2 separate regions of the Homo sapiens genome follow, and region 2 is linked to region 1. The links come from fine-mapping of genetic effects on gene expression. A gene starts in region 1. The other region holds a variant in brackets. All regions are shown on one strand. Distances are between the middles of the regions.

Region 1 (15,449 bases):
GTCGTGCGCGGAGGGGGAGGTACACGGAGGAGTCGCGGAGAGGCGAGGGATGTGGGAGGTCGTCACCAACAGCGCGACCTGGGTCACCCACAGGAAGAGGGCCACTGAGGGCCCCGCCTGACCCCTCCCTCCTGGTGGCCCTGCGCCCTCAGGCCGAGTCCCACCTCCTCTGCAGCTCTTCCAGGACCCACGCGGTCCCACCGCACCACGGCTCCCCCGGACCCCGCTTCCCCGAGGCCTGCGCGGAGACGCCGGGAAGGCCCGAGCCCGCGCATGCGCAGCCGCCGCCACGTGCCTGCCTTGACGCCGCCGGTGCTGCCGGGAAGGGGGCGGGCTGCGCAGGCGCGGGAGAGGCCCACGCGGTGGCCACGCGGGGCGTCCGGTGGCTGCGCTCGGTTGGGCCCCTGGGCTCGCGCGCTCCGTGGGCCGCGGTGCTGACGGGCACCCAGGAGGTGGGGTGGGAGGCGGCCGGCCGGGGTGGAGGGGCGTTCCTGGGCCGACGTGCTGTTGGCTTCCGCGACGTGGTGGAGTCTCGCCAGTCCCTGCAGCGCTTCTGCGACTCTGAAGATAAAGAGGATCGTATTTTGAGAAAAGCTCATGGAGCAAGGAGCTCAAGGAGCAAGGCCTGAGGTGCAAGCTGTCACCGGGTCGCATCTGCTTAGCAGCCTGCACATTGCTAGCGAGAGTCTCCACTCAGCCTGAACATAGTGCTTGGGAGGAGGAGGGCCGCCAGGCCACACCCGTGGGGTGCAGGATGCGCCATGTCGGGGTCCGTGAGTCTGGGGTGACGTGAGATCCCAGAGGCTGAGTCTGGAAAATTGAGCGGATGTGGCCGCGGTAGCAGAATGGACGAAGGCCTCCAGGCCGAGAGGGAGCTCTGTGTACAAGGGCACGGCAAGTGGCCACCGGTGGCCAGTGTGGAGTACGGCTCCCTCCAAAGCAGGCTCTTCCTGCAGGTATTTTATCCGGGAGGTGGACTCAGGAAGCACAGGTAAGGGAGTAGGGAAGTACACGTGTTGGGGAGCAGGTGAGAGCCGGGGCCCCTGGACTAGTCCTCCTGGAGGCCTCTGGGAGAGCACAGGACACAGTTCCGAGTGGGTTTGCTCTGGTTTTGAGGGGCCATCCTTGCCGCCCCACCTCTGCCAACTGCACTTCCAGCAAGCCCCGGGCATAGGCCAGCACCCCTAAGCACTGAGAAAAGCGCTCAGGCAGGAAGTTGCAGGTGCTGGGGGCGGGGGGGCGTTGGGGTGCATGGGAAAGGCAGGGTGCTGAGAGCGTCAGCCGCACTGCATGTGTGTGCGTGGTGGGGCTGGGGAAGGGCTGGCGCGTGTTGACACGATGGTGCGGGCACCGGGGAGCACCACCCCCACATGATCCCCTGTATGTTGCAGAGAGATGATGGCACCAGTGGGCACACTGCTCGCAGGTCAGGAGGAAACAGGGCTTGGTCAGGCCAGAGACAGTAGGAGCCTAAACCGCAGGCCTGCAGAGGTTGAGGGGAGGTGTCTGATAATTAGTAGGGTGTGGAAATGAGAATGAGCGAGTTGAGGATGGTGCCCAGGCTTCTAGTTTGGGTGGTCCGGTGAGTGGCGCTGTCTTCTGGCCCTAAAGCCCTGTCACGGTAAGGAGAACTGCCTGGAAAACGTACACTTGGGGAAGACAGAAGAGGTTATTACAAACACTCCTTCACTTTACAACTTGGCTATTTTGTGATAAGTTTTAGTGCATTTATTTGAGTTTATTAAAGATGCCATGTTACTGCCTTCTTAACAAATGGACATAGGCAGATAGCTGTTTTCCTGTTGTGGTGAGTAATGGCCAGGAGAGGCAGCCTTCTGTGGAGCAGGCACCGCAGAACCTTTGCATGCAGATGGCATCTCCTCTACAATGGCGCCGGGGTTGCTAGAGCCACAGACGCTGAGCTTATTTTACTCAGAAAGCCACAGAAACAATAACCAAAAAAGGATACTATGAAGGCAGCATAGATCATATGCTTTTTAAAAAGCCCATCGTCAGCATCAGTGACAACACCATTACCGCTCAGTCACCGAGATTAAAAATTAGTCACACGTGGAAAATAGAAACAGGTTTTCAGGGAGAAGAAGGTTTTGATTCCACTGAATAATGCTCCCTCTTTTGCTTGGTAAATAGATGATCCATATTTCCTGATGATGTACATTTTCGAGGGTAGCTATGCCTAGGTGGTCTCAGATTTGGGGAAAAAGCCTTGGCCTCAGTTGACTGGGAAGGGCTCAAAAACTATAAATTGTATCCAAAAATGTCTGACAACAAGGTATTCAGTAATGACATCAGAGACTCCATCCAGACTGAATCTAGATTAGGTCACAAATGATTAACAGTCCTTGGAATTAAGAACTTTTATCTTGGCCGGGTGTGGTGGCTCATGCCTGTAATCCCGGCACTTTGGGAGACGGAGGCAGGCGGATCACTAGAGGCCAGGAGTTTGAGACCAGCCTGGGCAACATGGTGAGACCCTGTCTCTACTAAAAATACAAAAATTAGCCAGGTGTGGTGGCGCGTGCCTATGATCCCAGCTACTCGGGAGGCTGAGGCGGGAGAATCTCTTGAGCCCAGGAGACGGAGGTTGCTATGAGCCAAGATCGCAACACTGCACTCCAGTCTGGACGACAAAGCAAGACTCCGTCTCTTTTTTTTTTTTTTTTTTTTTTTTTTTGAGACGGAGTCTCATTCTGTCACCAGGCTGGAGTGCAGTGGCGCGATCTCGGCTCACTACAATCTCTGCCTCCCGGGTTACATACCACCACACCCAGCTAATTTTTTGTATTTCAGTAGAGACGCAGTTTCACCACGTTGGCCAGGATGGTCTCGATCTCCTGATCTCGTGATCTGCCCGCCTCAGCCTCCCAAAGTGCTGGGATTACAGGCGTGAGCCATGATGCCCGGCCGCAAGACTCCGTCTCAAAATTAAATAAAATATTTTTAAAAAAGAACGTTTTTCTTGTGTGCATCACAATACTTCAGCGAGACACAATCCTCATCTGAGCCACCACGGGGCTGGCCCTTGCCCCTCTCCTTCCCTTTAAGCCCTGGTCCAGCCCAGCCTTCGGTCTTCTGAGCCTCCATGTACCTCGGCTGGGCCCCGGCCCCTGTCCTCAGCCCGTCCTGCCCGCTTCCCCTCCCTGGCCACTCTGGGCAGAGGCCTTGCTTCCTGTGTCACTGACACCTGGGGACAATCCACAGAGGTACCCCACACTCCCAACACGGCATCTGTCCCGCCTGTGCCCCCCACCCACCAAACCTCTGCTCCCCTCCATCTTCTCTCCTGTTACCGTGGTTGAACACTTCACGCCCCCTATTAAGTGCCAGCCACCCATCAGCCCTCCCCTGGCCCCACAAACAGTACTGCACCTGTCCTCAGAATTCAAATGTGCCCACTCCCTATGGCCGTCTCTGCTCTTCTGACTCACCTTAATCCCCGTTGAAGCACTCTCATTCTTTGGCTGGGTGCAGTGGCTCATGCCTGTAATCTCAACACTTTCATGAGGCTGGCGGATCACTTGAGCCCAGGAGTTCGAGACCAGCCTAGGCAATATGGGGAGACCCTGTCTCTACAAAAAATACAAAAATGAGCCAGGCATGGTTTCTCATGCCTGTAATCCCAGCTGCTTGGGAGGCTGAGGCAGGAGGATTGTTTGAGCCCAGGAGTTCAAGACTGCAGTGAGCTGTGATCACACCACTGCACTCCAGCCTGGGCAACAGAATGAGACAGCCTGTCTCAAAAAGAAAAGGTCTCACTCTCAAAGCCCCCTGAGACCACTTCCAACAGGGTCTCCACCAGCCTCCTCCACTCTTGGCAGCCTGGTCTTGCTGTCAATGGCGCAGGATGGCGCATGTGTTGGTCACTGGCTTCCCTTGGAACTGGTTCCTCCCTGAGCTCCTGGGGGCCACCTGACCCTGTTTCTGTTGCCCTCCTCCTTGGGCCCACTGTCGTGAACTATCCTGGCACTCTGTCCCCAGCAACTGTATAGCAAAGACGTCTACAGTGTGGACCTTGGCCTCCAGCCTGGCCCCTGAGCTGGAGACTCGGCAGCCTTCAGGACCCTTCCCCTGAGCTGTGTGAGAGAAGCTCCAGCCCAGCATCCCAAACCCAAGGCTCTGCCTGCCGAAACCTCCTCCTCCCAAACCGTCCCCGTATGGTGGTCACACCAGCCATCTCTGAGCTGCCAAGGCCAAAACAGTGTCGGAGTCCTCTACACCTCTTCCTCCCACCGCCCCGTGGAACCCACCGGCAACCCTCACACACGTTCCAGTATCACTGCTCTATGGCGGTGGGCTCTGCACCAGGCTGGACCACAGAAGGCCATGGTCGCTTCAGTTGTATAAAACACGCCACAGGTGCATCCAGCTGCTGGGATCAGTGCCAGTAAGTGCCCACTGCAGAAACCCAGTGTGCTGTGCCCGGGGCACCCTCACCAAGGCACTGTCCTAAGAATGAAACTGGCAACCAGAGGAAAGTCCACAGCAGGCCACTCTGCCACATTCCAAGGACAATCATGTGTTCCCCTTCCCCATATCCTTTTCTTTTTATTTGCCAGAAAAGTGCAGTTCTCCAGAAGCCAGCAGGCCAACCATGGGCGTCTCCCTCCCTCCCTCCCTAAGCACACTCAGCACCCAGGAGGGACATGAGCACCCACAGCCTGGGAAGGTCCCTCAGCGGCCGGGAGGGACATAAGCACACACAGCCCGGGAAGGTCCCAGAGCAGGCTGGGTGCTCCTTGCTTACGGAGGCCCCACCAGGGCCTGGCAGGGCACCCAGAAGATGAGGGCTTTAAAGAGCTCTCTTTGTCCCCATGTGGCTCCTTCTACCATGCTCCCGGCAAGCTAATGTTCTCAGTGGCTCTTTTTTTTTTTTAACAACTCTTATTTTCAAATAAGAATAAATATGTGTGTCTGTTCTCTGGGGGTTTAGGCAGCCCCGAGCTGACCCTGTGACTGGGGAGGGATTGATGGCCCCGTCTCACCGGGAAGCCAGGTGCATCTTTTACTAAAGGTGGTTTCTGAATGATGAATGGCTTTCTCACGAACATAACACTGTTGATTGTATTTACAAACAATTCATTTTCACGTTCTGTTGATTCTGCCCCAGCCGTCCCTCCTGTTGCCTCCACAGATGATGCATTGGTGGCTATTACCACCATTGATGAAGGCGTCCTGCTCGCCCTGTGGTACCTGTTACTCCATTCATCACAGTTGAGCAGCCTGCGTGCAGCGGGAGAGCGTGTTCTCTTCGGGCCTTGCAGTTATTTATCCTTGAATTTGTGTGGGTTTGTGCACCTCTAAATACAGGTGCAAACCCACACTCCAAGATCTTAACAGGCGCAACAGTGGCCAAAATACACGGCCAGTTAAATTCTTGGGGTTTAGCCAGTCCCCCAAAGCCCACCTCTTCCACTCCACATTCTAAAAAAATACCGATGCGCATAAACAGTGTCAGCAACCTCCACTAATTAAGGCTTCCAACCAGAAGGAAAGCTGAAGTAAGTACCAGCGATCAGCATCAAATCATCAACTTTTAGGGCTGACCTAAAAGACCCCAAGCCTGAATGCCCCAGCACCCACTGGGCAAGGGGCAGCCAGTCCCCAGCATGGCCTAATCCAGGCCAAGCAGGAAATTTCTGGAATCAGCTGCTTTTTCCACATTTCTCTATCTAGACCCCCTCCTCCTGGCTGCCTCTCTGGTTCAGTGGTGGCGTTCCCCTGAGCTTGACCGGGCTCTGCAGATGGGCTGGCATGCATGGAAGAAGCTGGCGCTGTGAGGAGTCCTGGCTTCCCGCTCACAGCCATTGGGCCTTGGGTGAGTCAGTCAGTCTCTCCAGACCTTGAGGTCTTCACCCAGGACATGTGGAGGCTCAGAAAGGAGCCCAGGTTCCTGCCCATCTGGAAAATCTGCATGTTCCTGGTTGCAGCAAGAGTCTGCCAGGCTCACACTTGCAAAGTACTGGTCCATATAAAAGCATAAAGCAGGCCAGGCACAGCGGCTCACACCTGTAATCCCAGCACTTTGGGAGGCCAAGGTGGGCCAATTGCTTGAGCCCAGAGTTTGAGACAAGCCTGGGCAACATAGCGAGACCCCATCTCTACAAAAAATACAAAAGTTATCTGGATGTGGTGGCGCATGCAAGCGGTCCCTGCTACTTGGGAGACCGAGGTGGGAGGATTGCCTGAGCCTAGGAGGTTGAGGCTGCAGTGAAGTGAGCTGTGATCACACCACTGCACTCCAGCCTGGGCGACAGAGAGCCACCCTGTCTCAAAAAAAAAAAAAAAGGCCAGTCACAGTGGCTCACACCTATAATCCCAACACTTTGGGAGGCCAAGGCAGGCAGATCACTGGAGCTCAGAAGTTCAAGACCAGCCTGGGCAACAGGGCGAAACCCTGTCTCAATTTTTTTTTCTTTATAAATTACAAAAGAGAAAACGAGCATAAAGCAGCCCCATCAGCAATTATCACCTCATCTGCAAAAGGTCCCGGCGCTCACTGCCGTGCCCCTCCCGCCGCTGTCCAGTTCCCTGCCTGTCACACCAAAATTCTCCTCTACTTTCTCACCTCCCATCCTTTCATTTTTCCCCCTAAATTTTTAAACTTCAGAAGTGCACAATACACATGTAACAAACCCACACATGTACCTCCAAATCTAAAATAATTTAAAAAAACAAAAAGGAAACTCTAAATTTTTTGAGTGCAGTGATACATTCTTGCTGTGCCAAATCCAGTAACACAGAAGCATGCAAAGAAAAAGGCAGCACCACCCCCCTCCAACACACACACACACACACACACACGCACACACGCACATATGCACGCACACACACGCACACGCACACACGCACACGCACACACTCCAGCCTGGGCGACAAGAGCAAGACTCCATCTCAATAAATAAATAAAGAAAATAGTAATTGAATATTTTCCTTCAGGAAACAGCACCCTGCAGGGAGGGGAAGTCTTATGACCCTCAAAGTTTGAGAGCCTCTCTTAACTTCCCAATGGCCTCTGTCTGCTGAACCAAGAAGCCTGCAAAACAAATACGTAAGAACTGGATACCATTTCAGTCACACATGCTTGCTGACAGTCACTGATATGGTAATGCCTCCTGTACACATAGCTGACTCTGAAGACTGCTAAGAGGGTTTGGGTCTCTGCTGTACAGGACCTTGGCAGCCTGCAAGGAGATGACTCACATGGAAGTCCCCACACAAGTGCACCCAGTGTGAACTTTGGAAGCATCGGCCCATGCTCAGGCCCACAGGTAAGATGGCCAGGAGCCCCTAACCTTGAGGAAACTTGAACCACAGAGCTGCTGGCGAAGGGGGTGGGTGAAGGTCTCATGTAGCCTGTGTGATTCAGGCAGAAGTGAGAAGGACGGGTGGGAACCCACCAAGTGGACGACAAGCTGAAGGGCTCCCAGGGAGCAGACACTTCAAGGGCCCCAAAAGGCCAGGAGAAAGAAAAAAAAAAGCCGGGTATGGTGGCTCATCCCTGTAATCCAGCACTTTTGGGAGGTTGAGGCAGATGAATTGCTTGAGCCCAGAAGTTTGAGACCAGCCTGGGCCTGGGCAATGTGGCGAAACCCTGTCTCTACAAAATATACAAAAATTAGCCGGGTGTGGTGGTGCAAGCCTGTAGTCCCAGCTATTCAGGAGGCTGAGGTGGGAGGATCACATGAGCCCAGGAGGTGGAGGCTGCAGTGAGCTGTGATCGTACCACTGCACTCCGGCCTGGGGAACAGAGTGAGGCCCTGTCTCAAAAGGCCAGGAGTGGAAGACAGGCCCTAGCCAGGAGGTTTCGCGTGGCTGGCAGGGGCCTTATGAGAAGGCTGTTGCTGGGAGGGGCCTGCTGCAGATGGCTGCGGCAGACCACGGAGCTTAGCCTTCAGGATTTAGATCTGGGGATGACAGGCTCCTGTGTGCTTGTTGCGGAGCCGGGAGCACAGGCACCAGAATGATCCCAGGGCTCAGCTCCAAGGCTCCGCTGGGCCTGTGGTGGGGCAGTGAACGTGGACAAGACCTGGGCTTCAGAGGAACTTGATGACCAGGAGCCGTGGTTACCGCCTGTGCCCTGGCCTTCCTGCTCTTCAAAGGGTGTGTTCTGAGCTGAGGCGAGACCCACACGAAATCCGAGCGGGCTCCGGAGTCACCAGACACCTAGGGAAGTATGGAAGGCCCGGAAGGACACACACAGCCGGGTGAGCCCCGCAGGGAGCTGTGCAGTCTCAGGTCGTCCAGTCCTGGGGCTGCAGGCCAGTTCTCCAAGCAGGTGGTCCTGGAGGCAAGCTGGTTTTGAAAGTAGGTTCTGAAAATAGGTCAGTCCAGGAAACAAGCTCTGGAAGTAAAGAGATTCGGAAAGCAGGTTCGTTCTGGAAACAAGTTCTACAAACAGGTAGTTCTGAAAGCACGTGGGTTCCAGAGGCAGGTGCTAGAAGGATGTGGGTTCTGTACGGAGGTTCTGGAGGGAGGCGGGTTCTGGACGGAGGTTCTGGAAGGAGGCGGGTTCTGGAGGCCGGTTTTGGAAGCAGGACGACACCGACAGAGGCGCCTCGGACTGGGGCCAGGCCTGGAGCCTCCGCTCCGCGGGCAGAGAGAAGAAAGCAGGCATTGTCGGAGGACTCACACAAGCACTTGTCCCTAACAAAACCGTTTTTAAAAACCCCATTGTGAACATTTTTGGAACAAGCCTCTTAGAGGGTCCCGTTGCCGGGGTGACAGGACGAAACGGCGCGAGCGGGCAGACTCCTGGAGTCCCCGCAAAGGGAGCCGAGGAGCTAGGCGCGCCGAGTCCAGGTCCGCCCTGACTCTCAGCTTGGGACGTTCCGTATAGTTTTTTTCTCCGTTTCCCGAACTTCTCCCGCACGCTCAGCGGCCGCCGCGGCGCATGCGCAGTACAACCTGCCAGCCAGCCGCGGGCGTTCCGGCCGCGGTTGCCAGGGGTTACCGTCCCGCGGGCGGGCGGAGCTGGCCGTCCAGAGCCCGCCTTCCTGGAACTCTGGTTGGCTGATATAGCTGTCCGTCGAAGCGGCATTGCCGCCTATTGGGCAATGGCCAGCTTCGCACGCCAGACCCGTGCCCCGCCCAGCCGCGCCGCGGGCCGCCCCCACTCAGGAGGGACAGTCGGGGACCGGCGCGGGCACTCAGGAGCCCGCGGCCCAGGTGGTGCGGGCGGCCCTAGCCCGGCTGCGGAGCGCTGCGCGAGCGGCGGGCTGGCTGACCCCGAGGGACCCCCAGCGCAGCGGGTGCGGCGATGATCCTGGAGGAGAGGCCGGACGGCGCGGGCGCCGGCGAGGAGAGCCCGCGGCTGCAGGTGCGCAGAACTGGCGCGGCGGCGGGAGGAGGGGCCCGGAATCCCGGCCTTTTCCTGCCCCCCCTCGAGGCGCGTTCCGGGCGCCCCCCTCCTACGTCTCATTCGGCCCGGACGCAGGCAGGGAAACTGAGGCCAGAGCCTGCGTCCCTCCTCCTCTGAGCTCGGTGGAGGTGCTTCCAGGCCACTCATGTGAGCCGGGAAATGCGGACAGCCAAAGTCTGGATCATCCTCACCGCTGAAGCGGGTTGGGGGGACGCCCTCCTCGTGTCCCCCTTCTGGGCGGATGTGGGGCTGGGCTCTGTGAGCGCCCTCCCCACACCCGCCATCGTGTTCCTTTCCGGCACCTGTACAGCCTCCTTCCCTAGTTCGGTCCTCCCTCTGCATCCGCTCAGGAACTGCATGCCCATTGGGTGCACTGGTAGCAGCGGGCAGCGAAGCCTCCTGGGTATGGGAAACCGAGAGAGGTCTTCCCGGCTGGCCTCTTCTCACTTCCCAAACCTCCTTCCCTTCTGAAGTCCCTAACCCGGGGTGCTGACTGGGCAAGTGGGAGGGGTGGGCAGGGCTGTGGAGACCTGCTGAGTCTGTGCCTGGGAAGGAGGGGACGTCTGTGGGCCTTGCTCTGCAGCCCAGAGCCTGCTTGTTCCCTGCGGACCAGCTCGAGGCTGCCCCAGTCCTCCTGCCAGGCCCTGGGCGCCCACGCCCGCCACGGGCTTTCAGCCGCGGGCTGCTCCTGCTCCTCGCCCCGGGTGAGCCTTTGATAGCGCGCGGCCCTCCTCCCCTCTGGGACGTCAGACTGTGTTGTCCCTGGGCTGGTTCTACTCGGCTTTGGTGTTTGGGGTTAGGTCTCCTAGAGGAGGAGGCGGTGCTATCAGCCAGGGTTTGGCTTCAGGTCACTGGGCTGGTGATGCTGACCGTAGCCCTCAAGGACGCCCTTCTTGCCCACCCCGAGGCGTGCCAGAGGCTGCAGCACCTCCTGGGCACTGGAGGGAAAGAGGCAGCCTGTGCCTGCCCCCTATGAACTTGCTCTGTCAGGGCGGCCATGCCTGCAGGTGGCCTGGGACGGCACATGTTGTTTTGGGTGGAATGTTTGGGAGGCTGTACAAACAAGATGTCCCAGAGGGCTCCGGAGGTGACGCTTTTCAGGCTGGGGGCTGTGCCTGGGCTCCCTGTCCTGGCCCTCCCTGGGCTGCCACCTTGGAAAGTTGGGGAGAAGCTGTTTCCAGGCTGCCGTGTCTCTCACAGCGTCCAGAAATGACCCCACAGTCAGGGTACTGGGGAGGGGCCCGTGGGAGGTGGCAGTGGGGCGGAGGCAGGCCCTGTGTCACACGCGCACCACTCAGGCTGTCCTGCCATCTGGAAAGTCTTCCCCGATGCCTGCTGCCGGGCTAGAGTGAGGCCTGTTCCACCCCCATCAGGCTGGCCCCCAAACTGGCCCTAAAGCTCAGAGTTCAGTGGGTCAGGGGTCGGTCGTTCATCCACTTAGAGGCCACACCTGGGCCTGAGGCCCTGTGGACAGGTCTGGGTGACTTGTATTTGCCCCAGGCGTGATGAGAGCAGGCTTCCAGCAAGCGCTTACCTGGTGCCAGGGCCAGTGCTACAGCTGGAGTCCTGCCATTGGTGCCTCCCAAGCCCTGGGCCTCAGCCCGTCTGATGAACAGGGTGAGTAAGTGGCCAAGGCTGCCAAGCTGGGAAGGGGAGAAGCCTGGCACGGCCCAGGGTGGCCAACCCAGCTGCCGTCCCTCCCGCAGGGGCTGCAGGGGCTCCCGGGGGAGGACCACAAGGAATACAGCCTGGCTGTATGCAGAAGGTTCTGTGGTTTCCTGGGGAGGCCAGTGGGAGAAGGGGGAGCAGGCTGCAGAGGGAGAGCGTTGGAGCAGCAGGTGGGCAGGGTGGCTGTGCCCCCCTCACCTGGTCTCCAGCATGCCGAGTGGGTCAGCCTGAGGTTCCCCAGCCTGGCTGGACAGGAGCACCCTCTGGGTGCTGGTTACAGGTTCCCAGGCCCCTGCCCAGGTAGATTGGGCTCCAGGAAGAGGGGTGCTCAGGAAGCACCAGTGCCTGGGTACCCCAGGGAGCATCAGAGAGAGTGGGAGTCCCTGCCGTGAGTGGCCAGTCTATGATTCCTCTGGCGTGCGTGCTGCTTATAGCCCTGTGTCCCAGGAGACACCTGTGCAGCAATGCCCTTTGAATTCTGTTCCCTCATCAGTGGGGGGCAGAGATGGTGGGTCAGGTGGGTGCTGGGCTTCCACCCTCCTGGGGCTTCCAGTTCTTGCATTCAGGTGAGACTTCAGTGGGGGCAGAGGAGAGGGGTACCTGAGATGGGTGGCTGTCAGCATACAGGGTGCCCAGGGCCAGGGCTCTGAAGGGAAAAAGCTGGTTTGCTCCAGGTGGGTGACCTCTCCCTGGGGACTGCCTGGCCCAGGGCCAGGGGATCCTGGGGGAGAGTGGAGGTCTGGCCCTGCTCTGATGTTTTGCTGTTCCCAGACCTGGGCTGGGATAACTATCTCTGCCTTTTGCCCGTCCCCAGGTCAGCCCCACTCTGGCCAGGGCCACACTGTTTCCTCCTGGGCAGAGGAGCCCCAGTGTCAGGGTTGGGGGGCTGTTTCTCTGTTCTTCGTCCCTCTCCATCGAGGCATGGCCAGGCCCTTCATGTGTGGCTGCCTCTCGGGACCCCCACAGACCACAGCCTCTCTGTCCTTTCCTAATGCAAGGCGGAAATGGCCACAGTGGGGTGTCAGGGCACCGTGGACGTGGGGGTGGGGAGCTCCAGGTCACCTTTGTCTCCAGAGGGTGGGGAGGTTGTAGCAGGAGTAGGGGCCTGAACGCCTGTGTCTATGCCCCTTCCACTGGGCTCAACCTTCAACCCAGTGTGGAAAGTGGGGCATGGGCCGCCCACCTCCAAGGTCTACCCAGCCTCAAAGGTCCGGCTCGGGTCTGCTCCTCCGCCTGTAGGCCGGGAAGTCACTTGGCCTGCAGGGAGCACTGCGGGTAGGGAGGCCGAGGAATGGACCAGGCCCACAGCAGGTGCCTGTGGGGCTCCAAGGGGCCAGGCTCCCCGCAGCTCTCCTGGGGCCAGGAGGGGAGCAGGGACCTGGCTGGGTGTCTGATGCCCGTCGCACAGCCAGAGCCCTTAAAGCTGCTGGAGCCTTGCAGCGGGGCCTTTGCGGGGAGGGGGTGTAGCTGCGGTGGGTGGCACGGGGGTCTCCTAGGTACTGGGCAGAGGCCCTCGAGGTGGTAGCGCCGGTGGGAAAGGTAGGGATGGGAGGCGGGGGTGGGCGGGCCTCAGGTTCAGGGAGCTTCTCAGATCTGAGGCGCCCATGCCCCTCTCCCACCTGTGGGCCTCTCCAGCCCGAGTCCCTGAAGCAGCTCTGGAGGGAATTTCTTTTCTGGAGGAGGCGGGAGTGAGAAACGGGAGCAGGGTGAGGGTTCCCAAGTGCACATCGGCCCGTCCGCTGCTGGGTGGTGTCCACGGGGGCAGGGCTGGGCTGGGGGAGGCCAGGGTCCTGGGCCGGCACACCCTCCTTCCGGCTGCCTGTGTCCCTCCCTCCAGCTGCCTGTGTCCATCCCTCCGGCCGCCTGTGTCCCTCCCTCCGGCCCCTAAGCGCCAACTCATCTTCAGTTCAGGGACCTCCGTCAGGCTCCCTCACCCCAGCACTCAGCAGGAGGCTGCCGGCCTGGGTGTCCAGGGGATGGTGCGGGTGTCCAGCAGACAGTACAGGGGTTTGGGGGATGGTACAGGTGTCTGGGGGATGGCGTGGGTGTCCAGCAGATGGCGCAGGGGTTTGGGGGATGGCACAGGTGTCTGGGGGACAATGCGGGGGTTTGGGGGATGGCGTGGGTTCCAGGGGATGGTGCAGGGGCTTGGGGGATGGTGTGGGTTCCAGGGGACGGTGTGGGGGTTTGGGGATGGCGCGGGTTCCAGGGGACGGTGTGGGGGTTTGGGGATGGCGCGGGTTCCAGGGGATGGTGTGGGGGTTTGGGGATGGCGTGGGTTCCAGGGGACGGTGCGGGGGTTTGGGGATGGCGTGGGTTCCAGGGGACGGTGCGGGGGCTTGGGGGATGGTGTGGGTTCCAGGGGACGGTGTGGGGGTTTGGGGATGGCGTGGGTTCCAGGGGATGGTGCAGGGGCTTGGGGGATGGCGTGGGTTCCAGGGGATGGTGCGGGGGCTTGGGGGATGGTGTGGGTTCCAGGGGACGGTGTGGGGGTTTGGGGATGGCGCGGGTTCCAGGGGATGGTGTGGGGGTTTGGGGATGGCGTGGGTTCCAGGGGACGGTGTGGGGGTTTGGGGATGGCGCGGGTTCCAGGGGACGGGGCGGGGGCTTGGGGGATGGTGTGGGTTCCAGGGGACGGTGTGGGGGTTTGGGGATGGCGTGGGTTCCAGGGGACGGTGTGGGGGTTTGGGGATGGCGCGGGTTCCAGGGGACGGTGTGGGGGTTTGGGGATGGCGCGGGTTCCAGGGGACGGGGCGGGGGCTTGGGGGATGGTGTGGGTTCCAGGGGACGGGGCGGGGATTTGGGGGATGGCGTGGGTTCCAGGGGACGGTGTGGGGGTTTGGGGATGGCGCGGGTTCCAGGGGACGGGGCGGGGATTTGGGGGATGGTGTGGGTTCCAGGGGACGGTGTGGGGGTTTGGGGATGGCGCGGGTTCCAGGGGACGGGGCGGGGATTTGGGGGATGGCGTGGGTTCCAGGGGACGGTGCCTCATCCTCCAGTCTCTGTCTCTGCCTTCCCATGGCCACCTCCATGTGACTGTGTTCAAATTCCCCACCTCGTATAAGGACCCTTGTCACTGCGATTAAGGACCCCCTACTCCAGGGTGGCCTCATCTTAACTCATTATATCTGCAAAGACCCTATTTCTAGAAAAATTGCAGTCACAGGTACTGGGAGTCAGGACTTGAACCTGTCTTTTGTGGGGACACAATTCACCCATAATAGATGGTCACCCGCTCAGCTGGCTGCTGTGATTTTGGGGGGCTGGACGAGCAGGCCTTCTGTCTAGGAAATCAAACCTTTCTTGTATAATGGGAATAAACTAATTAAAATGCACACAAAGATCTCGTTCACATTAGCAAAAAGAACTCTCTCCAGATATCTAGGAGAAAACCCAGGAAAACACGTGTGAGCTCTTTACGGGGAAGACGGGAAGGCCTGAGAGACGTGTGTGCGTGGAGAGGGTGTCGGGTCCACAGAGGGGAAGACCCAGTGCGTGTGCACGTTGGCCCCATGAATCCGCAGCTTCATGCAGTGGTAGGTCAGTTTCATGGTGGCAAGATTCACCTTCAGACGCCACAAGGTCCTGGGGAAGAAGAGGTCCTGTCTCCCGACAAGGGCGGGAAGCAGTCCCAGGAGCCACCAGAGGCCTTGTCTTGCTGCTGACTGGCAGAAATGGCCAGGTTGGCCACGCCTGACTCAGACCAGGCTCGCCCCAGGGCTGGGTGGGAGTCAGTGTCCCTGAGCAGTGAGCCCTGAGCAGCACTGTGGGTCTCAAAGCATGGAAGGAGTGGGTGCTGGAGAGGCAAGCCAGCCAGCCCACGCCTGGGAGCCCACCCAGGGGACAGCCACAGGTAGCTGCAAATAATCTTGTCCGGGTGGAGACCCAGGCATTCCCACATGGCCACGGGGAAGAGTGGGGGTTGGGAGGCCATGGTGAGAGGGAGGGACACGTGAGGATCATGTGGGCAGGACCCCAACACCACAAGGGTGGGGTGGGCTGAGGCATGAAACTGGATCTCCCTAGAGTGAAATGTAAGCTCCAGCACGCTGGCACCACTGACGACACAGGAGCCATCAAAGTCCAGAAGGGGCCCCGCTGGGCACGCCCCACTCTTTCGCCATGGCTGGTGCTGGGCAGGGCCGCGGGGCTGCAGTCTGGGTGCAAGGCTCAGAGTCATTTCTCTGTGGATAGGGAGGGCACGGGTGTGCGTTCGCTTCGAGAACCATTCCCAAAGTCAGACCGCAGCCTCTGCACCAACCATCGGGGGCCAGTGGCCGCCCCCAGAGCCTCAGGGACCCTGTCCTTTGAGCCCACGCCTAAACCCACATGGGAATGATTTGGAGGCGTGGGTGAGTTGGATGGGAAAAAAATTGGGAGGGGCAAGGGGGGGATCCAGAAT
Region 2 (13,064 bases), 24 kb before region 1:
CGTGAACCCAGGAGGCAGAGCTTGCAGTGAGCCGAGATCACGCTACTACACTCCAGCGTGGGCAACAGAGCAAGACTCCGTCTCAAAAAAAAAGACGGCAATACTCCCCAAACTGATCCAAAAACTCAATACAATCCCCATCTAAATTCCAGCTGGCGTTTTTACAGAAATTGACAACCTGATCCTAAAATTCACAGGGAAATACAAGGGACCCAGAATAGCCAAAACAATGTTTGAAAAAGAATAACAAAGTTGGAGGATTCATACTTGCTGATTTCAAAACTTCAAAACTGGCCCAGGGAACACAGCAAGACCCCATCTGTACTAAAGATTTTTAAATTAGCCAGGCATGATGGTGTACACCTGTAGTAAGGGAGGAGACCACCTCTCATATTGTCTTCTGCCTAATTTCTGCCTCAAAGAAAAGAAAAAGTAGGAGTTAAAGAAAAGGCAGAAGTGAAATTCAATAGTCAAACAGCCCGGCGCCACACCCCAGGCCTGGTAGTTAAAGATCGGCCCGGACCTAATCGCTTCTGTTATCTACAGATTCCAGACTTCTTATGAGGAAGCATTGCGTAACTCCCTGTTTGGTTCTGTTCTGATCACCGGTGCATGCGGCCCCAGTTACGTAGCCCCCACTTGCACAATGTATCACGGCCCTTTCACATGGACCCCTTAGAGTTGTAAGCCCTTAAAAGGGACAGGAATCTGGACCTCGGGGAGCCCGGATCTTGAGAGGCGATTCTACTGATGCTCCCAGCTGATTAAAACCTCTTATTCCCTAAAACCGGTGTCCGAGAGGTTTTGTCTGCAACGTGTCCTGCTACAGTAGTCCTAGCTACTCAGGGGGCTGAGTGGGAGGATTGCTTGAACCCAGGAGTTCAAGACTGCAGTGAGCTATGATCAGGCTACTGCACTCCAGCCTGAACAACAGGCTCCATCTCTTAAAAAAAAATTTTTTTTTTGGCTGGGCTTGGTGGCTCACGCCTGTAATCTCAGCACTTTGGGAGGCCAAGGCGGGCGGATCACCTGAGGTCGGGAGTTCAGGACCAGCCTGACCAACATGGAGAAACCCCGTCTCTACTAAAAATTCAAAATTAGCTAGGCGTGGTGGCTCATGCCTGTAATCCCAGCTACTCGGGAGGCTGAAACAGGAGAATCACTTGAACCCGGGAGGTGGAGGCTGTGGTGAGCTGAGATCGCACCATTGCACTCCAGCCTGGGCAACAAAATGAGACTCCGTCTCAAAAAAAAAAAAATGTTAATTTTAAAAAGGGGGATAAATAATCTAAATAGACATTTCTCCAAAGATGAGATATAAAAGGCCAACAATCCTGTAAAAAGATGCTCAAAATCATCAGCCATGGGAGAAATGCAAATCCAACCCACAGTGAGGTCACCTCACACCTGGGTGGCTGCAGTCAACATGCTGGGGAGGGCGTGGAAAAGTGGCACCCACTGCACAAGGCCAGAGACACAGTTGGGGAGTCTGGGCCTGCAGACCAGAAGGGGTTTCTATGAACTGTCTGCCAATATTCCTGGGGTTGGCGGCCTCCTCCCCTTGTGCCCTCTTCTTCCCCAGGCCACTCAGGGGTTGCCCAAGGGAGCGGGGACAGGGCTTCACGCACTCTTCCTCACAGCAGGTAGGAGGACCCCTGTTTTGCATGAGAGAAACTAGGCTTAGAAAATTTAAAGAATTTCCCCAGAATCAAACAGGTGCTGAATGCAGGAGCTGATACCTATAAAGACGTTTCCCACCCAGAAGCCGGAGCTCCAAGGCTATGCAGGGACTGCCCAGGTGGGAGGCGGCGCCGCCCAGCAGACACAGCTGCGAGCAGTGGTGGAGTTTACCCCATCCAGAAGCCACACTGCAAAAGAAACAGTGACTTTGACCTTAACAATATACTTAATTTCAACTATTTCAACCAAAATACTGTCATTCAACATAATATGCTAATGCGATGGTATGCATCGTTCTTCTCAAAGCAGGCGTGCGTATCACACCCCCAGCACGTCTCCACTGGGAGAGCTGCGCAGCTCGTGGCTGCGTACAGGACACAGCAGGGGTGACGGCTACAACTGCAGTGTGGCCCACTTGTGGCCATGTGACCTTGGCCCGGTTACTTAACCTTTTTGTACCTCAGTTTCCTCATCTGAAAAATGGACATAGCAGTACCTACTTCATAGAGGACTGACCAAAAGCAATGCCAGACACACAGCAAACACTCACTTACTGCTGGCTGCTCCCAGTACCCTACAACCCACAGCTCAAAGCTGCCGATGCAAGAGGGCACTCTGGGGGGCACCCAGGCTCCCTGGCAACCTACAGTGGGCAGGCAAAGGCCAGCACTGTAGCATTCCCACATTCCCAGCACTGGTCTACACAGCACTCCCCGCCTCCCCCACCAGGGACAGGGAGGGGAAGTGGGCCTGTGCTGGTCTAAACTGCATTCCCCTGCTCCCAGCGCTGATCTACACAGCATTCCACCCCTGCCAGCACTGGTCTACACAGCATTCCCCCCGTCCCAGCACTGGTCTACACAGCATTCCCCCACTCCCAGCACTGGTCTACACAGCATTCCCCCCGTCCCAGCACTGGTCTACACAGCATTACCCCACTCCCAGCACTGGTCTACACAGCATTCCCCCGTCCCAGCACTGGTCTACACAGCATTCCCCCACTCCCAGCACTGGTCTACACAGCATTCCCCCGTCCCAGCACTGGTCTACACAGCATTCCCCCGTCCCAGCACTGGTCTACACAGCATTCCCCCACTCCCAGCACTGGTCTACACAGCATTCCCCCACTCCCAGCACTGGTCTACACAGCATTCCCCCACTCCCAGCACTGGTCTACACAGCATTCCCCCACTCCCAGCACTGGTCTACACAGCATTCCCCCCCTCCCAGCACTGGTCTACACAGCATTCCCACACTCCCAGCACTGGTCTACACAGCATTCCCCCCTCCCAGCACCGGTCTGCACAGCATTCCCCCCCTCCCAGCACTGGTCTACACAGCATTCCCACCACCCCGTCAGGACATGGAGGGAGAGAAGGGGTGGGGTAGGGTACACACCATTTCCACCTGCTGCCTTCGGCCTTCTCCCACCCTTTCTGGCTCTCCTCCTGTGGCTTAGCTGCCTCCTGGCCATCTTTCTTCTCTCCCTCTGGACACCCCAGCATCAACTGGCTCCCCCTCCTTCCACTTCTCTCTGCTTCTGGCTGGCTTCCGGCTGCCCTGAGCTTTCTCTTCTTGGGGCTTCTTCACCAGGCCCCCCACCTCCCAGTCACCCTTTGCCCCAGGGCAATGGCGAGGCCACGCCGCTGGCTGTGGTGCCCCGTCCAGCTCACTCCCACACTGCACTTCTCTGTCTTCCTCCAGGTCCTGAGCTTTTCATTTCTTTGGTTTTCGAGTCCCCTCTTCCCCAGCTTTGTCTGTCTCCCTCTTCTTTTCTTTTCTGGAAACCAAGGCCTCCTGTCCCACTTTTGTGCCACTACCTAATTTGTCACTTTCTTCTTTCTTGGTTTTTCCCACCCACACTTCTTTTACATCCTCGTCCTCGTTCTGTGCTTGTCTCCTGGCCCGTAACTCTCCTTTCTGCTCAGTGTGGCCCTGGCTCGTCCTCCGTGCTGGGGTGGGCACCATGCCCTCACTGTGCACCTGCTCCTGGCCACGCTTCGCACCTCTTCTGTGGGAACTGCTCTGTCTATCCCACTGCCCAGAGCGCGCTCCTCCCCAGCTCCCACGGCGGCCCCTGCACTCTTCCGCTCCCCACAGCTGAGGGTCTCAGGCTTGCCCCTAGCGTCCCCGCCACCCTCTTCTCGTGCTGCCGCCCCAGTGCATCTCCCCACACGTTTGTCCTGAAGCCCTTTCTCCCCTTTCTCTTCGGATATTCTTTTTTTTTTCTCAGTTTGTGCCTCTCTTCCACACAGCCCTTGCCCCGGCCAGTGTCTGTGAGCTCACAGTCCAGGTCCTCTTCCAGAGCCCCCTTCCGGCTGGGCACCGCCTGCAGGGCCATGCCCTTCTATCTCTTCTCTTGGGTGTCAGGACCCCGGGCACATCCACCAAGGGCCATCTTCATCTTGTCTGCAGGAACCTCCGTGTGGCCTTGGGACCTTGCCCAGAACAGAGAGCACACACCATGAGAGGGGCCACAGGGCCACAAACATACCCACCCGGAGACCCCAGAGGAGGAGGGAAGGTTCACCTTCCCCACCCCAGCAATGGCTGCCCTCCATGGGCCTAACAGATGCTTTTAACTCAGCTTTGGAAAATGGCCTCTTGATCTCAGCCCTTGTGGCCTCTGTCAGGAGCAGAAACCAAGGGCAATGAACAAAGGAGCCAGGGGTCAGCTTGGGGCTGCTCCCAACTCCGGAGCAGGTGCAGGCCGCAACAGGCCATACTGCCAGCGTCCACCCTGACCCAGACACAAAACACCAGAAAGGGAAGGTCACAGAGCACTATCCCGACACCACTGCCCCA[T/C]CTAGTGCTTCCTTCTTCCTTCTTCTTCCTCTTCTTCCTCCTCCTCCTCCTTCCTCTTTCTCCTCCCCCTTCTTCTTCTTCTTATTAGCGACAGAGTCTCACTCTGTTATTATTATTATTATTGAGACAGAGTCTCGCTCTGTTATTATTATTATTAGAGACAGAGTCTCGCTGTTATTATTATTATTAGAGACAGAGTCTCGCTCTGTTATTATATTAGAGACAGAGTCTCGCTGTTATTATTATTATTAGAGACAGAGTCTCGCTCTGTTATTATTATTATTAGAGTCTCGCTCTGTTATTATTATTAGAGACACAGTCTCGCTCTGTTATTATTATTATTATTAGAGACAGAGTCTCGCTCTGTTATTATTAGAGACAGTCTCGCTGTTATTATTATTATTAGAGACAGAGTCTCGCTCTATTATTATTATTATTAGAGACAGAGTCTCGCTCTGTTATTATTATTATTAGAGACAGAGTCTCGCTGTTATTATTATTATTATTAGAGACAGAGTCTCGCTGTTATTATTATTATTAGAGACAGAGTCTCGCTCTGTTATTATTATTAGAGACAGAGCCTCGCTGTTATTATTATTATTATTAGAGACAGAGTCTCGCTCTGTTATTATTATTATTATTAGAGACAGAGTCTCGCTCTGTTATTATTATTATTATTAGAGACAGAGTCTCGCTGTTATTATTATTATTATTAGAGACAGAGTCTCGCTCTGTTATTATTATTATTATTAGAGACAGAGTCTCGCTCTGTTATTATTATTATTAGAGACAGAGTCTCGCTGTTATTATTATTATTATTAGAGACAGTCTCGCTCTATTATTATTATTATTATTAGAGACAGTCTCGCTCTATTATTATTATTATTATTAGAGACAGAGTCTCGCTGTTATTATTATTATTAGAGACAGAGTCTCGCTCTGTTATTATTATTAGAGACAGAGTCTTGCTCTATTATTATTATTATTATTATTATTAGAGACAGAGTCTCGCTCTGTCACCCAGGCTGGAGTGCAGTGGCGTGATCTCGGCTCACTGCAACCTCTGCCTCCCGGGTTCAAGCGATTCTCCTGCCTCAGCCTCCCGACCACCACACCCGGCTAATTTTGTATTTTTAGTAGAGAGGGGGTTTCATCATGTTGGACAGGCTGGTCTCAAATTCCTGACCTCAGGTGACCCACCCACCTCCGCCTCCCAAAGTGCTAGGATTATAGGCATGAGCCACCACGCCTGGCCTGCTAACTTATTTCACCATAAAATCTTAGAAGAAAATCAGACACTAAGTTCATTTGTGTTGTCATATCTGCAAGAATAAGCATTCATCAGGCATGAGTGCCTGGGAAGTTGCTTATCAGAATCATGTTCACACATTCATTTCCTATTTAAGATGCCGACTTGGCCTTTTTTCTTGGGTGGCTTTTCATGGTGATTAGTCTTCACTGGCGTGGTGATCTGTGCAAATCTAGAATTCAAATGTATACATAAACATGCAGCTCTGCGGCTCATTTAGGGTTGCCATTCTAACAACAGAGAGTCAGAACAACCTCATGGAAGCCTCCCAAGCTCTTCATGACCCTTTTCTCATTTTTCAAAAGTACACCTGGCAAAGCTGCTGGTGACCCACGTGCTGGGCATCAAGGAACCTCTGACTCTGAGCACAGCACCAGCTGGCGGTGGGAAGTCCCGCCCGAGGCCAGAAGCTGCGAACACATCTCAGGCCCCTCCCGGCCTCGGGAAGAGTGGGCAGGCAGTAAAAGGCAGCTCCCAGGTCCCCTCTGGGACCATCTCTGTCCCCACCAACACCACAGCAGTTCAGAGATCATCAATTTGGAAAAACAGTCTTTCCAAAGTAACTTTTGAAGAAGAAGTGTGAGAAAATATATTCAGAAACAAAACCCACATTGAACAGAGAGAGGAACAGACACTTCGCTTAAGTGGGAATGGCACGGGGCCCACCTCGGGCTGCACGCTGGGTCAGAGGCGCCATCCCTGGGAACCCCGAGGAGGTTATGGGGGCACCAGGCACCCCGGTCTGAACGCTCCCACTCATCGGCTGACTGGCCACCCTCACCCACACCTCACACTATGGCTGCTCTCACTCCACCATCTGACCATCACAACACACGCCCACATCCATGCAGACTGGAGACACAGTGAAACACGCGTCTTGCAAGGAAAAACCTGTGAGATTTCTGAAAATCATGTTAGAGCCCTACTGAGGCAGAGGCCTGGGCCAGCCGAGAAAGGTGAGAGGAGGCCCTGTTGTAACACAGCTGGAAAGCAGGATTCATAGATGGATTTCATGTGGAATCTAGGCCCTCAAGGATGGGGCCCTCAAAGATGACACCAAGGTCTGTGCTTGAGAAGACAGAAGGAGCCGCTTCACCGAAACGAGAGGACTAGGGAGGGAAGGGCAGCAGACACCCACGGTCCTCTCAGGATGTGCTGACTGCAGAGGCCTAGAGTCCCACAGGGAAGCCGTGGGAGGCCCCCTCTGCCCCAGCCCAGCTCAGCCCTCCTGCTTGAGGAAGAAGGAGTGGCGGGACACCAGAGGGACAGGCTAGGAAGCACTCAGTAGCAGTGGCAGGAGCTCAGGAGGCTTTGGGCTGGCCCTGAGACACCACCACCCACTGGCCAGCAGCAGCTGGTCCTCCAGGTCTCCGTGACTCCCCCAGCCCCATGCCCACCCAGGATACAAAGGCAAGCCTCCCCACTCCCCAGCCACTCCCTTACTCAGTGAGGACCCAGGGCTGCTCACTGTGCCACCCGCCCGCCGCGCAGCACCATTCCCCAGCTACAGGGACAGCTGATGGTCACACAGACCCCACAGCGATCTCTGTCACTCCCAGACGCCCCCTCCCCAGTAACCCCTGTTGTGGGGGTGTAGACGGAGAGGCGCAGACACTGTCCTGTCAACAAGCCAGGCTCCATGTTGTCCGTAAGTCCAGGGCCCAGCACCTAAGGGTGATTAACTGGCAAGGACACCAAACAGCGGAGGAGGAGGGACCTCAGCTGAGCGAGATGAGCGACAGTGAACAAGGCCAGGCAGGAGACAGAATGGATGGGCGTCAAGGGAGGAGCCACCCAGCACCTGGAGAGCAGCTGTGGTCACAGGCACGAATTCATCACAGCCACAGTCATCAGCACGGGCTGCAGTCTGGGGTAGAAAAATCAGAAGGAAGGAAACGTTAAAGTTTTAAGCAATAAGAGACCCAGGGGCCGTGTTAAAAGGTAACTCATTCTCTACCTCATCCCAACTCAATGACACAATCCTGGCTCCACCTGGGCCAGCACAGGGGCTTGTAAAAGAGTATGCATGGGAGACTCCCCATAGACAGGTCCCAGTCCCCGGACACAGACACGTACCACACTGCAGGCACCAGCCAGTCCTTCCCGAGGAGCTTACCCTCACTGGGCAGAGCCACGCACTGAGGGGCAGAGCCCACAAGCCCACTGGCAGCCGAGGTCACCCCCATGCCTGACCTGGCAGAGCCCTGCAGGAGGCAGGTCCACAGGGCATCCCTGGTGGCTGAAAAGGTCTGAACCAGCACTGGGCACAGGAGCCCAGCAATGCCAGCCCGAGGCGTCTGCTGGTCTCCGGAGGACACAGTTGCAAACTCGACACAGACACAGAGAAGCAGGCTGGCCCCTCCAGCTCCTGCTGCCACGCGCGGCTGGGAGGTGTCACTCACACCCCACGTGGAACAGGGCCTCTCGGGCTATACTCCCACACCTCTGGCTGGCACTTCAGCAGAGAGTTTTTCACTGTTTTAAATTAAAATACAGATAAGGCTTGCATTAATTTAGTAGAAAAGTTTAGCGCCAACTCAGGGCTTTCATAAATTATAGAAGAATACATTACATAGTACCAGAACACAGAGAAGAGATAAAGTAATTCACACTTAAACTATACTGATGAAGTCAGTCATCAGTAAAATGGCAAAATCCAAATCATCGACACTTTTTCTAAATTGAAGTCCCACAAAGCATTTACTATTGCATTGCTTTTCAAACAAACCGTTATCTAACAACCCACTGTTAATGGGGTAGACTGTGGAGGGTCTGATTCTGCCCTATCAGCACATCCGCAGGAAACACCTGCAGAAATCATCACCAGGGAGATGCCGGGGGCAGGGGTGATGGTCGAGTGTGTGTGGACATGTCTGTATTCTGAGTGTGGCAGTGGCTTTCCAGAGGGACACTTCTGCCACAACTCATCCAATGGTCACTGTCAACGAGTACAGTTTATCACGTGTAGATAATGTGTCTGTAAAGTTCACTTCTCACAAAGTGCTCCTGTGTGACTCCAGAGCCCAGGAGAATGGGAAGCTCTTCTGGCTCTTGGCCAAGGGTTTGTTTCACCTCCAGAACAGCTCCGAAGGCAATGCCAGGCCTCCTGAAGCTCAGGAGTGAAGAGGAAATGCCAGGTTCCTAAATATGAGGCTGCTCCAAACTCCTTACAGGCAGTGCAGGAACAGAACACCCAAAGGGGTTATCTTCATAGAGCACTTTTACCACCCAACTAATGGGATATTGAGACACCCAGAAACTTAGTTCTTGGACCAGGCATTGCCCCTCAAATTTGCTTTCCCTTGCCAAGATCTCACAAAATGATTTTTTAAAAAAAGATATATTTTAAACAAACAAAGCAGCACAAGAGAATAAGAAAGGGGGCTGTGCTGGGTATAGCAGCATGCTTGTAGTCCCAGCTACTCGGGAGGCTGACATGGGAGGATCACTAGAGCCCGGGAACTGGAAGCCAGCCTGGGCAACACAGCAAGACCTCATCTTAAAAAAGAGAAAAAGAGAAGGAAGGGGGATGTATTTTAGTCCATTTTCTGCTGCTGTAACAAATAGCACAGACTGGGCAATTTATAAAGAACACAAATTTATCTGGCTCACCAGAGGCTGGGAAGGCCAAAATCAAGAAGCTGCATCTGGCAAGGACCTTCTTGCTGCATTACCCCAGGGGCAGAAGATGAACTAGCGCACAGGTCAGAGGGAGGACACTAAGCAAAATCACGATTTTGATCAGGAACCAACTCCCATGGTAAGAAATCTACTCTCAAGATAACAACATTGTCCACTTATGAGGGTAGAGCCAAATCACTTTTCAAAAGCCTCACTTCTTTATTTATTTATTTATTTATTTATTTATTTATTTATTTATTTATTTTGAGAGATGGAGTCTCACTCTGTGGACAGGCTGGAGTGCAGTGGTGTGATCTTGGCTCACTGCAACCTCCGCCTCCCAGGTTCAAGCGATTCTCCTGCCTCAGTCTCCCAAGCAGCTGGGATTACAGGCATACGCCACCACACCCGGCTAATTTTTGTTTTGTTTTGTTTTTGAGATGGAGTCTCACTCTGTCGCCCAGGCTGGGGTGCAGTGGCGCGATCTCTGCTCACTGCAAGTTCTGCCTCCTGGGTTCACGCCGTTCTACTGCCTCAGCCTCCCAAGTAGCTGGGACTACAGGTGCCCGCCACCATGCCCAACAAACTTTTTTGTATTTTTAGTAGAGACAGGGTTTCACCATGTTAGCCAGGATGGTCTTGATCTCCTGACCTCGTGATCCGCCCGCCTTGGCCTCCCAGAGTGCTGGGATTACAGGCATGAGCCACCGCACCCAGCTAATTTTTGTATTTTTTAGTAGAGACGGGGTTTCACTATATGTTGGCCAGGCTGGTCTTGAACTCCTGACCTCAAGTGATCCACCTGCCTCGGCCTCCCAAAGTGCTAGAATTATAGGCGTGCCTGGCCAGGCCTCACCTCTTAAAAGTAGTTACTATTTAGTATTAAGTATTACAAATGGCAACTAAATTGCAACCTGAGTTTTAGAAGGAACATTGAAACCACAGCAGGCAGGCAGCCAGCCAGCCAGCCAGCCAGCCAGCCAGCCAGCCAGCCAGCGGGGAAGAGTTGAAACAATCCAGGAACTTTATAAAGCACAATGGGAGAGAGGGCAGAGCCACCCTCAGTCCAAGGTGGGCTGTGCGGGACCACCGCTTTGAGCCCCACAGCAGGCCAGGCCTCGAAGCTCAGGCACCGAGGTGAGGACGGGTACCTGGAGCTCAGCAGGCTCCTCTGTGACGCAGCTGTAGCAGCCAGGGGTCTCCCCACGCTGAGGAGGGTGAGGAGGGGTGGCTGCCATGGAGGGTGCCCAGGAGATGTGGGGCCTGACCAGGGCCTCCACATCCCACAGCAGCCTTGCAAGCCAGAGGGGACCTCCACCCAGGGCCTCCTTCTGTGCTAAGAGTGGAGTTCCTGGAGTTGGAAAGTCCTGCCGCCTAAGCCCTACCACCCTGGAGAGGCCCCACTCAGGACAAAGCCCACTGGTAAACCCAGGCCCGCCCCATCCAGAGATACTCCCACCAGCTCCCTGCTCCAAAGTCCCTCAGTCATTGTCACAAATAGTGAGCAGCAGACATGTGAGAAAATCACAAGAAAATGTCCACACAGAGGACAGCACAAGGGGTGGTAAGACCATGAGACCACCTGGGGCAACAAGAGAATTGATAGAAAACCCAGTCACGGCTTTGAAAGGGCCCAGGACTTCATGCCCTGAGCCGCAGCTACGGCTCAAGACTCCATGTGACCCTGTGGCCCTTCTGTCCCACACTCACCTGACAGACACCCCCCACCGACCTCCCCCACAAGCCCAGCTGTGTAGCCTGTTAATCCTGCCATGTAAAGGGGTGCCCTGCAGGGGTGTGGCAGGAGGGTCCTAAGAAGACCAGCATATTTCATCCTGTGTCACTCTTGTACTCACTGAGAGCTGGGGGGTGGGGGGGGGTGGGGGCCCTCCAGGTGGGCCTGATCTAGCCCCATGCGCCGCTGAAAAGCAGTTTCCTCCAGGTGGTGACAGGGAGAGTCAGAGACTGGATTCAGGTGCCTCTGCAGGCTGTGAGGATGAAGGGCCAAATGGAGGGGCATGGAGAATGGACGCCAGCTGACAGCCAGCCAGAAAACGGCCCTTGGTCCCACAGCTACAGGGACTGACCCAACTCCCAGGAGCCTGGTGCCCTGAGGCAGGAGCCCAGCCCGGCCAGCGTACCCCGACTCAGCACACCCCAACTCACCCTAAGCTGAGAATCCTGCCAAACCCACTTGAGCATCTGACCTACAGAACTGTGAGCTATGACCAGGCATTGCTTATTGCCTGCACAGAATGCTCGTAGCTGGCTTAGAGGGCAGAACCGCGGTCTCCAGGGCAGCAGCCAAATCACCTGAGGATCCTCTCCTCAGGAGGCAGGTTCTCAGCTCCTCACCACAAAACTACCCACCAGAGACCAACAGGCGGGCCATGAGCCTCTTCTGTTTAATGTTTCATTAGAGAAAATCTCAAGCACACACAAACAGAGAGAGAACGGCTTATGAAAACTCATTATACAAATTGAGCTTTTCCTACCACACCCAACCAAATCAGAGTCGAGGGACCCAGGAAAAGCTCTCAGGCACACGGCACCTGCTCCCAGAGCCCCCCTCCCACCCCCCTGCCCCCTGCAAGTCTAGCTGCTGAAATGACCTGCTGCAACCTTACAACCGGGTGTACCTAATGGCTGTTGGAACAACCTACCTGACCCAAAGACTAGGTTTACCTACTGTGTCTTTCACCAATCTGAGCTTGCCAGCTCCCCAAAACTTCATTAGTGCCAATGTGTTTTCTTTCAAAACAATAGGTAACATTTCTCTTTCCAATAAACCCCCCAGCATGCTCTTCGTTCTTGGGACCAAAGACCACTCTGGTCTGTGTGTATGCCTGAATTGCAATTCTGTTTTTCCCAATAAAACATTTTGTTTAGAGATTCATCTGTACACTTTTTTTTTTTTTCTGTTGAGACAGAGTCTTGCTCTGTCACCCAGGTTGGAGTGCAGTGGCATGATTTCGGCTCACTGCAACCTCTGCCTCGTGGGTTCAAGTAATTCTTCTGCCTCAGCCTCCCGAGTAGCTGGAACTACAGGCACTCACCACCACGCCCAGATAATTTTTGTATTTTTAGTAGAAACAGGGTTTCGCCATGTTGGCCAGGCTGGTCTCGAACTCCTGACCTCAATTGATCTGCCCACCTCAGCCTCCTAAAGTGCTGGGATTACAGGCACGAGCCACCGTGCTGGGCCTCATCTGTGTATTTTCATTTGAGTCTGACAAGTATTAATACACTCCCACAACCCCATTACACCAATTCAAAACTTATCAGCTCACATCCCATCTCCTTCCATTGAGTGCCCACCCTCTTCTCTCCCCACTGGGTTATTCTGAAGCAACTCCAAGACAGCACATCGTTTCACCCACAAACATCTCCAATTATGTCCAAAGATGCAAACTCTTCCGTTAAAGACCACAACCACGTGCCCACTTCGGCAGCACATACGCTAAAAGTGGAACAATACAGAGAAGATTCTCATGGCCGCTGTGCAAGAATGACAGGCAAATTCATCACGCTCTCCACAAAAACAATTAAAGAACACAACCACTATACACCATCACTCTTTCTTTCTTTTCACTTTTCTTTTCTTTTATTATTTTAAGACTGAGTCTCGTTCTGTCATGCAGGTTGGAGT

The links. PIP is the estimated chance that this variant, and not a neighbour inherited with it, causes the effect.
Region 2: its variant is fine-mapped to the expression of RHPN1-AS1 in whole blood (TOPMed, PIP above 0.99). The same link has a PIP of 0.9 or more in blood mononuclear cells.

Annotation. Positions count from the first base shown.
Region 1 is chr8:143,359,711-143,375,159 of GRCh38, forward strand. RHPN1-AS1 (RHPN1 antisense RNA 1) reads right to left here and starts at 8,925. Exons shown (of 1, transcript NR_026785.1): 1 at 6,913-8,925. It overlaps RHPN1 (rhophilin Rho GTPase binding protein 1), which reads left to right and starts at 9,166. Exons shown (of 15, transcript NM_052924.3): 1 at 9,166-9,337. The coding sequence starts at 9,278. It also overlaps a transcript of TOP1MT not described here. RefSeq lists enhancers at 8,124-8,679, 9,420-10,327, 10,328-11,234 and silencers at 8,843-8,912, 8,923-9,382, 9,583-9,632.
Region 2 is chr8:143,337,321-143,350,384 of GRCh38, forward strand. It overlaps a transcript of TOP1MT not described here and the pseudogene RNU6-220P. Among named protein-coding and RNA genes, the nearest start is that of TOP1MT, 9.0 kb to the left of the region's middle. RefSeq lists an enhancer at 1,817-2,554. The variant T/C (reference allele first, on the strand shown) is at 4,486.